Linked DNA regions of Homo sapiens: region 2 is linked to region 1. The links come from fine-mapping of genetic effects on gene expression. A gene starts in region 1. The other region holds a variant in brackets. All regions are shown on one strand. Distances are between the middles of the regions.

Region 1 (5,354 bases):
CAGGAGAAACCTGGCGCTGCCCGGGTGCTCCAGGCACAACACATGGCAGCTAATGCTGCCCAGCAGGCTCCGCAGAAACTCCTCAGCCGCCTGGCAGGAAGCCTGGGCTCCACAGAGCTGCAGGGCCATTGCAGAGATGGAGTTTGCAGGTTTAGAGCACAGGAAAGGTACTTTGAGTCCCCAGTAGGAGGAGGGGGCTGAAGGTGAGGAGTCCTGAGGGGTCACTCACCCGAAAGCCAGTCATATCCGGTCCTTCAAGTGGCAAGAGAGCGACGTCTCCCAGGCCCGCAAGAAGGTCCTCATGGTAGAGCTGCAGGAAGCGCATCGCCCCTGGCTCCATCAATAGCACCATCTCCACCAGGCCCTCCTGCCCTGCCAGCTTCACACATCCTGGGCTCACAGGCCCTGCCTTCTCCAGAGACCCCATGGTGATCTCCATGGGACCCACCAGCCCCTCTTGCTCTGGTGAGTCCATGGCAATTTCCACCAGGCCCTCCTGCCCCAGCAACCCCTTAGAGGTCTCCACTGGGCCTGCAGACCCCACAGGCCCCAGGCTCATGGGCCCCTCCTGTTCCTGCAACCCCACAGGCCTCAGGCTTACCAGCCCCTCATGTTCCAGAGACCCCATGGGCATCGAGCTGACTTGCTCTGCCTGTCCCAGAGACCCCATGGGACCTGTCCTCAGAGAGGTCCCTGACTGCCCTGGTTCCTGGCCAGAGCCTGTTGTCATAATCCCTCTACCCTGCACCATGGGACCTGTCCTCAGAGAGGCCCCTGACTGCCCTGGTTCCTCGCCAGAGCCCATTGTCACAGTCCCTGCACCCTGCAGAGCCGTCACCAACCCTCCGGTCCTCAGGAGAGCATGCTTGGTAGCCCTAGGCCCCTGGGTGGACGGGTGGTCCCCTCCACTGGTGTTCTCAGCCAGCTCCTCGGGCTCCAGGATGTCGTAGTGGGGGACAAGGCTCAGCTCTGAGCCCTGCAACCGGTGCTCCTGCTGCAACACTCGTTCTGCCACTTGGAGGAAGGGAAAGGACAGAAAGCCTGTCAGATTTCTGCAGGAGAGGGACGGTCGGCTGGGTCTGCCCAGCCCCACTCACCTTGCCACTGCTGGAAGGAGGCAACAGTGCCCAGGGGCCCGGGTAGGCGTTGCAGGTCCTCCAGGGGCCCCCCACCACTGCGGCGCTCATTCTCCAGGTACAACTCCAGCAACAGCAGGTCCACAGAGGCACCATCCCCCACCACACGCACCGCTCGGGCCTGGGGAACCCGGGCCAGGGACACCAAGGTCCCCTCCAGGCCCAGATTCTGGGCCTGCTCCTCCAGGACACGGACATCTGTGGGGTATGTGCAGGTCAGCTCAGGGAATCCCCCCTAGCCAGCACCTCAACCCCAACCCTGCCTCTCACCTGCCTCAGAAAGGGGCTTGGGCAACTGGACCAGAGCCCGGTCTGGCCGGGGGCTGGCCAAGGCACAGCAAGGCTGTACTGGGAGCCCCGAGGCCCGCAGCAAGGCCTGGACATGCTGCTCCAAGCGCTGGGGCGTGGTGCCAGGGGGCAGTCCTTGGAGCAGCAGGCGTGCAGGGGCTCGTGGTGGAGCTGGCCGCAGGCTCAGCTGGGCACCATGTAGTTCGTGATCTGCCTGGGCCAAGACCCTCTCGGCGTCTGTGGGCAGGGGCGGGGCAGGATGTCAGGCATTAGAATATCAGGGCACCCAGGCTGTCCCTTCAGCCAGCCCTCTCACCTGCAGGCTCTCTGAAGGTGAGGACGCCCCCACAGCCCAGTCTCTGCCAGCTCAACACAGGTCCCCCTCCAGAGCGTCGGCGGTTTTCAAAGTAGAGAGTGAGCAGCTCGTCGGGCACGGCAGGGGGCAGTCCACGGACCTCCACTGCCACCCCTGCCTCTGCCTCCGCCATTGCAACCCTGGGACGGGGCATCAGGTGGGTAGGGAAACAGCCCATTCCACCCCTCCTGCCCCTCCCCAGGCCCCTCCAAGGTGTGTCCTCAATGCTCCCCCATTATGGGTGGCCCCACATACAGCACTTACATTCCCCGTGGCCGCTAGGCAGCCTCAGGCCATGAGCTCAGCCAGGACTCCTGTGCCTGCCCCTCAGCAAGCCTAACCCTGCTGGGAGCAGGAAAACAAAAGTGAAACTGAAAGACGGAAGGAGGGAGGGAGCAGCTGGGCCCTGGGCGCTGAGGCCTGGGTACTGGGGCTCAGATGCTTCCTCTCCTGCTGCAGCCTCAACCCCCAGCTGACCAGGAGGTATTGGCCAGGCTGGACCCCTCAGGACCCTCCAGCCAACCCAGCCCAGCCCACCGGCCCTACCTGGCCCACTCCAGCCCCTGGTTGGCAGGGTAGACAGGAGTGTCCCCTGGTGGCCCTCCACTCCCCTGGCCTCCATGGCCTGAAAATGGCCAATCACCCGCCCCACTAAACCCACCAAGGGGCCTGAGTCACTGCCCCTCACTCAGGATCTCCAAGCCTCTGTGTCCATGACACCCTCTGCACACAAAGTGCTGGGTCTCCAGGCCCGCCCCCGGCCAAGGCTGGCCTTCAACGCCCCCAGCAACCTTCTCAACCCTGCTCCTGGTCCCTCACACCTGCCAGGTGCTGAGCATGGGCGGTTCCCCACCCTTGGTCTCCAAGAATGTGCATTGCAGCACAGCCTTCCTCCCGCCTCAGGTCTTGCCTGCCCATTCCTGCAGCTTTCTGTCCTGCCTGCACCTCCCCATCTCACACCATCATTGGCATCGTCACAAGTAACCTCAGAAGGTGACAAGGTAATGGCTCCACTGCATTCCTTGCTGCCGCTAATCCTCACCACAGAAAGGGAAACGGAGGTGCAGACAGGCCCATAGCAGCACCAGGCCTCAAACCTGGGCGGTGCCTTCAGAGTCCACACTCCCACTCGCCACAGATCTCCCACATCACCCAAGCTCCGTTTGCTTCCAGCCTTTCAAAGAGCTGTGGCCACTACCACTCTCCATCTCCTACTTCCCACTCACCCCTCAGCCCACCAAAACCCAGCCCCACCCCTGCTGTTCCTCCCTCCAGGGAGCTGAGGACCCTGGCCAGCCTGCACTCCTAGCCCTGCACATGCCACACCTCTGCTGCCCCGACCCTGGTCCCAGCCTCCAGCATCTCTCGCTAGGTAGCTAGGCTAACCTCTTAACTAGTCTCTGTCTGCCACTCCCATGGTGGGTCCTCAACAGAGGTGTCAGGGTGAGCCTTGTAAAATGACACCAGCAGCTGCTACAGCTCCCAGCATCAGCAACAGTAGAAACCAAAGTCCTGGGGGCCGGGCGCAGTGGCTCATGCCTGTAATCCCAGCACTTTGGGAGACTGAGGCAGGTGGATCACGAGGTCAGGAGTTTGAGATCAGCCTGGCCAACATGGTAAAACCCTGTCTCTACTAAAAATATAAAAATTAGCCGGGCATGGTGGCAGGTGCCTATAATCTCAGCTACTCAGGAGGCTGAGTCAGGAGAATAGCTTGAACCTGGGAGGTGGAGGTTGCAGTGAGCTGAGATCGTGCCACTGCACTCCAACCAAGGTGATAGAGTGAGACTCTGTCTAAAAAAAAAACAAAAACCCAAAGTCCTTTTGAGGACCTGCCCCCTGCCCAGCTGCACCTGACCAGACCTCAGTCCCTTCTCTGGCCCCATGCCCCCTGCACACCCTGATGCTCAGAGGGCTCCAGGCTCTCAGCTCTTCCTGCAGAGCTACAGGCCACTCCTGCCTCAGTAGCCTGGGACTGGCCCTTCCCTCTGCTTGGCCCTACCTTCCCCACAAACCCCCATGGCCACCCCTCTGGCATGATCTCCCTTACTCTGCCTTTTTTTTTTTTTTTTCTGAGACGGAGTTTCGCCCTTTCACCCAGGCTGGAGTGAAGTGCCGTGATCTCGGCTCACTGCAACGTCCACCCACTGGGTTCAAGGGATTCTCCTGCCTAAGCCTCCCAAGTAGCTGGGATTACAGGCACGCACCACCATGCCCAGCTAATTTTTGTATTTTTAGCAGAGACAGGGTTTCACCCTATTGGGCAGACTGGTCTCAAACTCCTGACCTCAGATGATCCACCTGCCTCAGCCTCCCAAAGTGCTGGGATTACTGGTGCCAGCCACCATACCCAGCTATTTTATTTTTATTTACTTATTTATTTATTTTTTGAGACAGAGTCACACTCTGTTACGCAGGCTGGAGTGCGGTGGCACGATCTCAGCTCACTGTAACCTCTGCCTCCCAGGTTCAAGCCATTCTCCTGCCTCAGCCCCCCCAATAGCTGGGATTACAGGTGCACACCACCACGCCCAGCTAATTTTTTTTTGTATTTTTAGTAGAGACGGGGTTTCACCGTGTTAGCCAGGATGGTCTCCATCTCCTGACCTTGTGATCCACCCGCCTCGGCCTCCCAAAGTGCTGGGATTACAGGCGTAAGCCACCGCGCCCAGCAAGCATTTTATTTTTCTTAAAGGTCTCTCAAATTTTGTGAGCTTCTGCTTCTACAAAGGTAGAAGTTACCTTCTACAAGGGTAAATCCATCCCTGCTTTTTCCACGTTTTCTCTAATGGAACTCATCACAGGTTATCCATTACGCCGACCCTGGCTGCAGAGGGCCTGCCACAGGCACCACTCACACCACAAGCAGACTGGTACAGTTTCGGGAATTTCTGTGGACTGGTTGTCCAGCTGGGGGTAACTTGAAACCAGCCCCGGTGGAGTATTCACACCACGCGCATGTGCAAAACACGCACCCCAGGCTTCCCCTCACTAGGTCCGGCTGCTAAACACTGCGCCAGCGCACCATAGGTGCAGGACTCAGAGCGGCCTGGGAGAGGCCGGCCCTCCAAGGGCGGGAGGGCAGGTGGGGTCTGGGCCCCGGGTGGGAAGGCTGGCAGCAGGATGTACCCTGCCTGTGTCAGTCACTGCTCCCCCAAGAGGACTTGGGAGCTAAGCAGGGAGGTGGCCTGGCCTCCAGTCCTGCTGCATCCCCAAGCCTCAGCCCCTCGCAGCTTGTGAGGACGTTAGGCAGACAAGCGAGCGTTCAGGGTCTCTAGTGTGAAAACAAGACATCGTATTTGTTAGTACAAAGGGTGACTGTGGTCAAGAATAATTGTACATTTTAAAACAACTCCAAGAGTATAACTGGATTGTTTGTAACACGAAGGACAAAATGCCTGAGCTGATGGATACCCCATTTACCTTGATGTGATTATTATCCATGGCATGCCTGTATCAAAACATCCCATGTAGCCCGTAAATATACACCTACTATGTATCCACAAGAATTAAAAAAATAAAAAAGGGTCTCTAGTAGCAGGCCTGGCAGAGTTTGGGCTGACAGAGCAAATGGG
Region 2 (5,354 bases), 56 kb before region 1:
CTCGAGCTCCGGGAGGGTGGCCGGCACGGCCTGGGCCTCCTTGAGCTGCTCCTCGTGGGCCCTGAGCACCTCCTCGGCCCCCTGCGTGCCGCGGATCACCAGGCTGATGGTCTTGAGCCTGGCGGGAAAGCGGGGCTCAGGGCCATGACATGGGGCTCGAGCAATAGCCCAAGGGAATGGAACCCAAGCCACAGCGACCCAGGGTGCTGCCTGCCAAGCCCAGACCCAACCCTGGGGGTCAGCTGACCCTGTGGTCAGAGGCTTGCTTCAGGAGAAGAACAGCCTTGGGGAGAAGGAGGTTGGGAGCCTCTGTAACACAAGGACACTCAGGACCCAGCCTGGAGAGGGGGTGCGCCAGCCAGGAACGGCAGACCCCAAGGCCCCGAGACAGGACGAGCCCACTGGCTGGATGACAGCGGCATCCTGGTGCCCACAGGGCCTGGAAGCGTAGTTCTCAGCCCTTGCAGCCCAAGACTGGGCGAAGGGGACACCGGGGTGGAAATGGCACCCTGTGGTAGCCAGCGGCGGCCCTATCACTGTGCTGGTTCTGTGAGGAGTAGACAGCGGGTGGACCTGTGGTTTGCAACACAGGAAGAGGCGGCGGCCCTATCACTGTGCTGGTTCTGTGAGGAGTAGACAGCGGGTGGACCTGTGGTTTGCAACACAGGAAGAGGTGGCGGCCCTATCACTGTGCTGGTTCTGTGAGGAGTAGACAGCGGGTGGACCTGTGGTTTGCAACACAGGAAGAGGCGGCGGCCCTATCACTGTGCTGGTTCTGTGAGGAGTAGACAGCGGGTGGACCTGTGGTTTGCAACACAGGAAGAGACTATGACATAACACATTGGAAATAAATGCCAGAGGCCCTTAAGTCCAGGCCAGGAACAGGACAGACGAGAGGCAGGGTGCAGGATTCCTTACTGTGCCACTGAAAGTGGATCCACAGCTTCCCCACCTCACTCAGCAGCCGCTGCCCAGCTCCACTGTCTCTTCCCCACACCCGAATCTCATCACCAGGAAGTCCCCCGGCCGCCACTGTCGAAGCGTATCCAGCCCTGAACTCTTCTCACCACCTCTGCGGCCACCACCCCAGCTGGGCCTCCCGCCTCCTGGCCAGATCTCTGAACAGCCCCCAACTCGTTCCCTCCTGCACCCTCCTGCAAGGTCACAGCCCTCACCCCAGCACCCCCCAGCCGACCCCAGCCCCTCGCCTGTGGCCAGGTGCACTCACTTCTCCAGGTAGATGGCAGACAGGCTGCGGACCTGCTCCAGCTTGCCCAGCGTCAGCTCCAGCTCCGAGCGCAGCGTGGGGGCCGCAGGCGATGGCTCTGGTAGGGCCAAGACCTTCTCGGCCTCGGCAGAGAGCCGGGCGACCCCCTTGCCCAGCCCCTCCACCTCTGCCTGTGCCTTCTGCAAAGACAGGGAGTGGGAACGCACTCATCACCGAGCGCAGCACACAGCGCCCCTTGAAGGCCAAAGGAGGGAGGGTGGGAGGAGGGATGGGGAGAGGGATGGGACTGGATGGGGGGGGACGGCCCCTGCCTGCTGCTCGGCGATGCGCTGGGCACACTCCCGTGCCGGCTCTTTGTCCAGCGGCAGCCGCAGGCGGTGCACGGTGCGCGTCTCACAGGCCTCCAGCTGCAGCCGGATGTCTTTGAGCTCGGAGATGCAGCGCTGGCAGCGAGACTCTTCCTGTGCACCTGGGGAACACATGTGGGTCACTCCACCGCCCACCTCGCACCAGCCCAACCGCCCCAGCCCTGCCGTGCCCTACCCTGTTCCAGGCTCTGCAGCAGCTGCTGGTAGTGGTGGCTGCAGGAGCCGTACTCGCGCTCAGCCATCAGCCGGTCCTCGGGTCCGAAGCCGCCCGCGTCCTGGCTGTCCCGCAGGAAGGCCTGGTAGTGCAGCTCCAGGCTGTGCAGGGCTTGGCGCTGCTCCTCTGGCTTCAGGGTGCGGAACTGGGGGAAGCACGTGGGGCTGAGTGCCGGGCGAGGCGGCCGTGCCCTGCACAACGCCTCTCCCCTCCTCCCACCCAGAGAGCCCCCGGCTCGGGGGCAGGCGTACCGTGGCCAGGGACCAGGAGCGGATGAGCTGCACGTCGCGGCGAAGGCTCTGCCAGGCCAGAAGGCTCTTCATGTCCACGTG[C/T]AACTGGTGCCACAGCGTGACCAGGGCCTGGTGCTGGGCCTCCAGCCTGGCAGGTCAGGGCTACAGTCAGCGTCACCAGCGCCCCACCCGCCTTCCAGCCCCCACCTGCTGAGCCCCCGCCACCCACCTGGTGACGGCCTCCTGGGCCTCCTGGTTGGGCGGGGGCACCAGGAAGCACACGGAGGGCACGGCGGCCTCGCTGCCGGAGCTGCTGAGCACCTTCCAGTGGGACGGCTGTGCAGGGCCCACCAGCTGGCACTCGTCACCCTTGTGCACAGTCACCTGGGACGGGCAGAGTCGGTGAGGACATGGCCACACCCTGCCCTGCCTGGCCACGCCCCCCAGTGGACCCCCGGCCTGCGCTCACCTCCACCTGCTTATAGTCGCACACGGCCAGCAGGGGCAGGCGGCCCCGCATGGGGTGGGCTGGGTGGCGGGGCTTCAGCTGCACGACGGCCTTGGCCCGCTTGGCCAGGCCTGAGAGGTGGCCCTTGTACTCGTTCAGCTGTTCCTTCTCGTCCTGTGGGGGAGGGGCAGCATCCAGACGAGGGCCATGGAGACCCACAGGCCTGCCCCAGGCACCCCCAGACCCCGGGACCAGGCCTGTGGGGCCCTCCTGATGCTCCCGGGGTGGCAGCACTTGGAAGCAGGAGGTATAGCTGGGACAGGCCCCGGGGGTTGGCCCCAAGCAGACCCATGCACCCTCGCTCCTTCCCAACCCAGACAGGGCACCCTCCTCTCACCCCAGCTCACCCACCATGTCCTCCCAGCTACGCTCTGGTCCCTACAATGCCCTCGCCCCTTGCCCCTCCCCTGCGGGCTGCAGAAGGTACTGCCTCCTCCCATCCCACCCCTCTGCGGGGGCCAGGCCGCAGGACGGCACACACCTGGGAGCTGCCGGCTCTCCCCCCGGCCCAGCCCTGCCGACCTCAGAGGCCATTTCAGTCTCCAGTCCCTCTTCCCTGTCACTCCCCACTGTGCACCCGCCCTCCTGGGTGATCCCACCCCTGCTCCCAGAGCACAAAGCCCAGTTCCACTCTGCCCGCTCCAGATCTCAGGCCAAACAGCTGGTGCCCCTTCTATAGTACAAGGGCTGGCAGTGCTCCTTCTATAGCACAAGGGCTGGCGGTGCCCCTTCTACAGCACAAGGGCTGGCGGCAGCTGCTGACTTCAGGCTTCCACTCACTCTGTGGCTATGGAGATGGGGGCGGCCCGGCTTGGACCGGCTGCCTCTCGGCTCCCCACATCCTGCCTCATTCCCCCCTTGGCTGACCTCTACACCTCCCATGGTGCCTCCCAACTCCTGCTGGCCCCTCCAGTTGCCCCCTAGTCTCCAGAGTACCCATGCAGCCCAGAACATCCTGCCTCATTCCCGCTTCGGCTGACCTCTACACCTCCCATGGTGCCTCCCAACTCCTGCTGGCCCCTCCAGTTGCCCCCTAGTCTCCAGAGTACCCGTGCAGCCCAGACTCCAGGCCAGCCCCTCCTGACACGCCCCTGCACACCCCCTCCCTCACCTGGGCATCCTGCAGCAGGTCCTCCAGCCGGGTGACGGTGGCGGAGCGATCACAACTGTATTTCCTACGCAGTGCCTCCTGCAGCTTCTGCAACTGCCCCTCGGCCTCCCGCACATCTGAGAAGAACTGGGGCAGCGGGAGGGGGTCACGCCAGGCTACCTGGGACCAGAGCCCCAGCCCACAGTTGTCCCAGGGCAGGCCCAAGACGGGGGCACTGAGGAAGGAGTGGCAAAGCCCCCAGGAGGCCTGGGGAGCACCCCTGTCCAAGGCCCCGGTCAGGCTGCAGGCAGCAGCTGGCAACGTCTGCAGACAGGAGGGCTCCTGATTGGAGCTGCCGAGGGGGTCCAGGGGCTCCTGCAAGGCTGCCGCTGAGCCACAGTGCGGAGGGGGCTCCGGTTCTCACCTGAAAGTAGGCAGCGTTCTCCTTCAGGTGTGCCTCGATACAGCAGCACAGCTGTAGCATCCAGCTCCACTGCGTCTGCAGGGCCGCCTGGAAGGACTGCGGGACAGCAGGTCCCGGTCAGGCCCCGCCCCGCCCCGCCTGGGGACCCGGCACGGCCCCCCCCGCAGCCCCGCCCCTACCCAGGGAGCCCCACCTCCACCGTGGGCCGGGCCGGGTGGTCCTCCCGCAGCAGCCGGTCCCCAGCATTTTGGAGCTCCTTGATCTTCTTCTCCTTCAGCTCCAGCTCCCGCATCAGCGCCTGGCACCAGAGCAAAGGGTCTCAGGGACGGCCGGCCACACCCGGCTCTGCCACGCTCCCAGCAAACTCGACCCAGGGCCCCCACTGGTCTCTGACCATAGGGGACGGCCAGGGCACAGCTGGGGAGGGGGCTGTGGGGTTCAGGGCAGCTGGGCCACCGCTCACCGAGTAGCTCTCCTTCTTGGCGGTCATGTTGGTGTTGCGGTCGCTCCAGTCGAAGCCCACCTCCTCCTCCTCCTTCTCATTCAGCCACATTAGCTCCTTAGTGGCGGCTGCCACAAAGCTGTGCAAGCTCTCCAGGGACCTGAGGCGGGCCTTGGAGGAGTTCTGTGGGCAGGAGGGTGCGTGTCAGCAGGCCGCGGGCTACCCACCTCCCCCGGCTGGCCCTGCCCCCACTCACCAGCAGCTTGGCGTACTGCAGGTCCAGCCGACCCAGGCAGTCACGGTAGGCACCCCGGGTGGCGGGGGAGAGCTGGCCCTGCAACAGATGAGACGGTGAGGTCTGCAGTGGCTGGGCCCGGCCCACCCCCGCACTGCCCATCGCTCAGCGCCACCCACCTCGTCACTCCGTGCCCGCTCGATCTTGGCCCGGAATTCTTCGATGGACTGGTGCAGGCCTCGGTGGCTGCCCAGCTGCGCCTCCACGCTGGGCAGGTCCACACCCCACTCAGCGCCATCCACACGGTGCTGGTTCTCCTCCACCCAGGCCAGCAGGTCCTGCAGGTAGCGCAGAGTGGAGTCCTCCAGCTCGGGGCGCCTCTGCACACTCTGCAGAGTCACCTGGGCCACCTGGGTTGCAGGGGCCGCCACGCCTGCCTTCAGCCGTAGGTTGTACTCGGTGCGGATGGCTACCAGGCGCTCGTGCAGACGGTACACCCTGGGGCAGCAGAGGACTCAGGTAGGTGTTGGCGGGCCTGGGGCCGTGTGTACCTGGGCTTCAGGGAGGGCAGGGCGGGGCCCACCTGCGGTACATCTGCTCGCCCTGCGGGTGCCG

What was found.
Region 2: its variant is fine-mapped to the expression of PARP10 in whole blood (TOPMed, PIP 0.95).

Annotation. Positions count from the first base shown.
Region 1 is chr8:143,984,315-143,989,668 of GRCh38, forward strand. It overlaps PARP10 (poly(ADP-ribose) polymerase family member 10), which reads right to left and starts at 2,146. Exons shown (of 11, transcript NM_032789.5): 1 at 2,044-2,146; 2 at 1,741-1,919; 3 at 1,407-1,661; 4 at 1,098-1,334; 5 at 230-1,014; 6 at 1-117. The coding sequence starts at 2,045. RefSeq lists enhancers at 1,809-2,248, 1,919-2,822.
Region 2 is chr8:143,927,875-143,933,228 of GRCh38, forward strand. PLEC (plectin) reads right to left here. Exons shown (of 32, transcript NM_201384.3): 13 at 5,323-5,354; 14 at 4,919-5,237; 15 at 4,761-4,838; 16 at 4,526-4,687; 17 at 4,256-4,360; 18 at 4,063-4,158; 19 at 3,660-3,785; 20 at 2,510-2,662; 21 at 2,270-2,424; 22 at 2,062-2,188; 23 at 1,772-1,955; 24 at 1,540-1,697; 25 at 1,229-1,407; 26 at 1-118. Among named protein-coding and RNA genes, the nearest start is that of PLEC, 9.0 kb to the right of the region's middle. RefSeq lists enhancers at 346-475, 866-1,115, 4,340-5,275 and a silencer at 602-731. The variant C/T (reference allele first, on the strand shown) is at 2,143.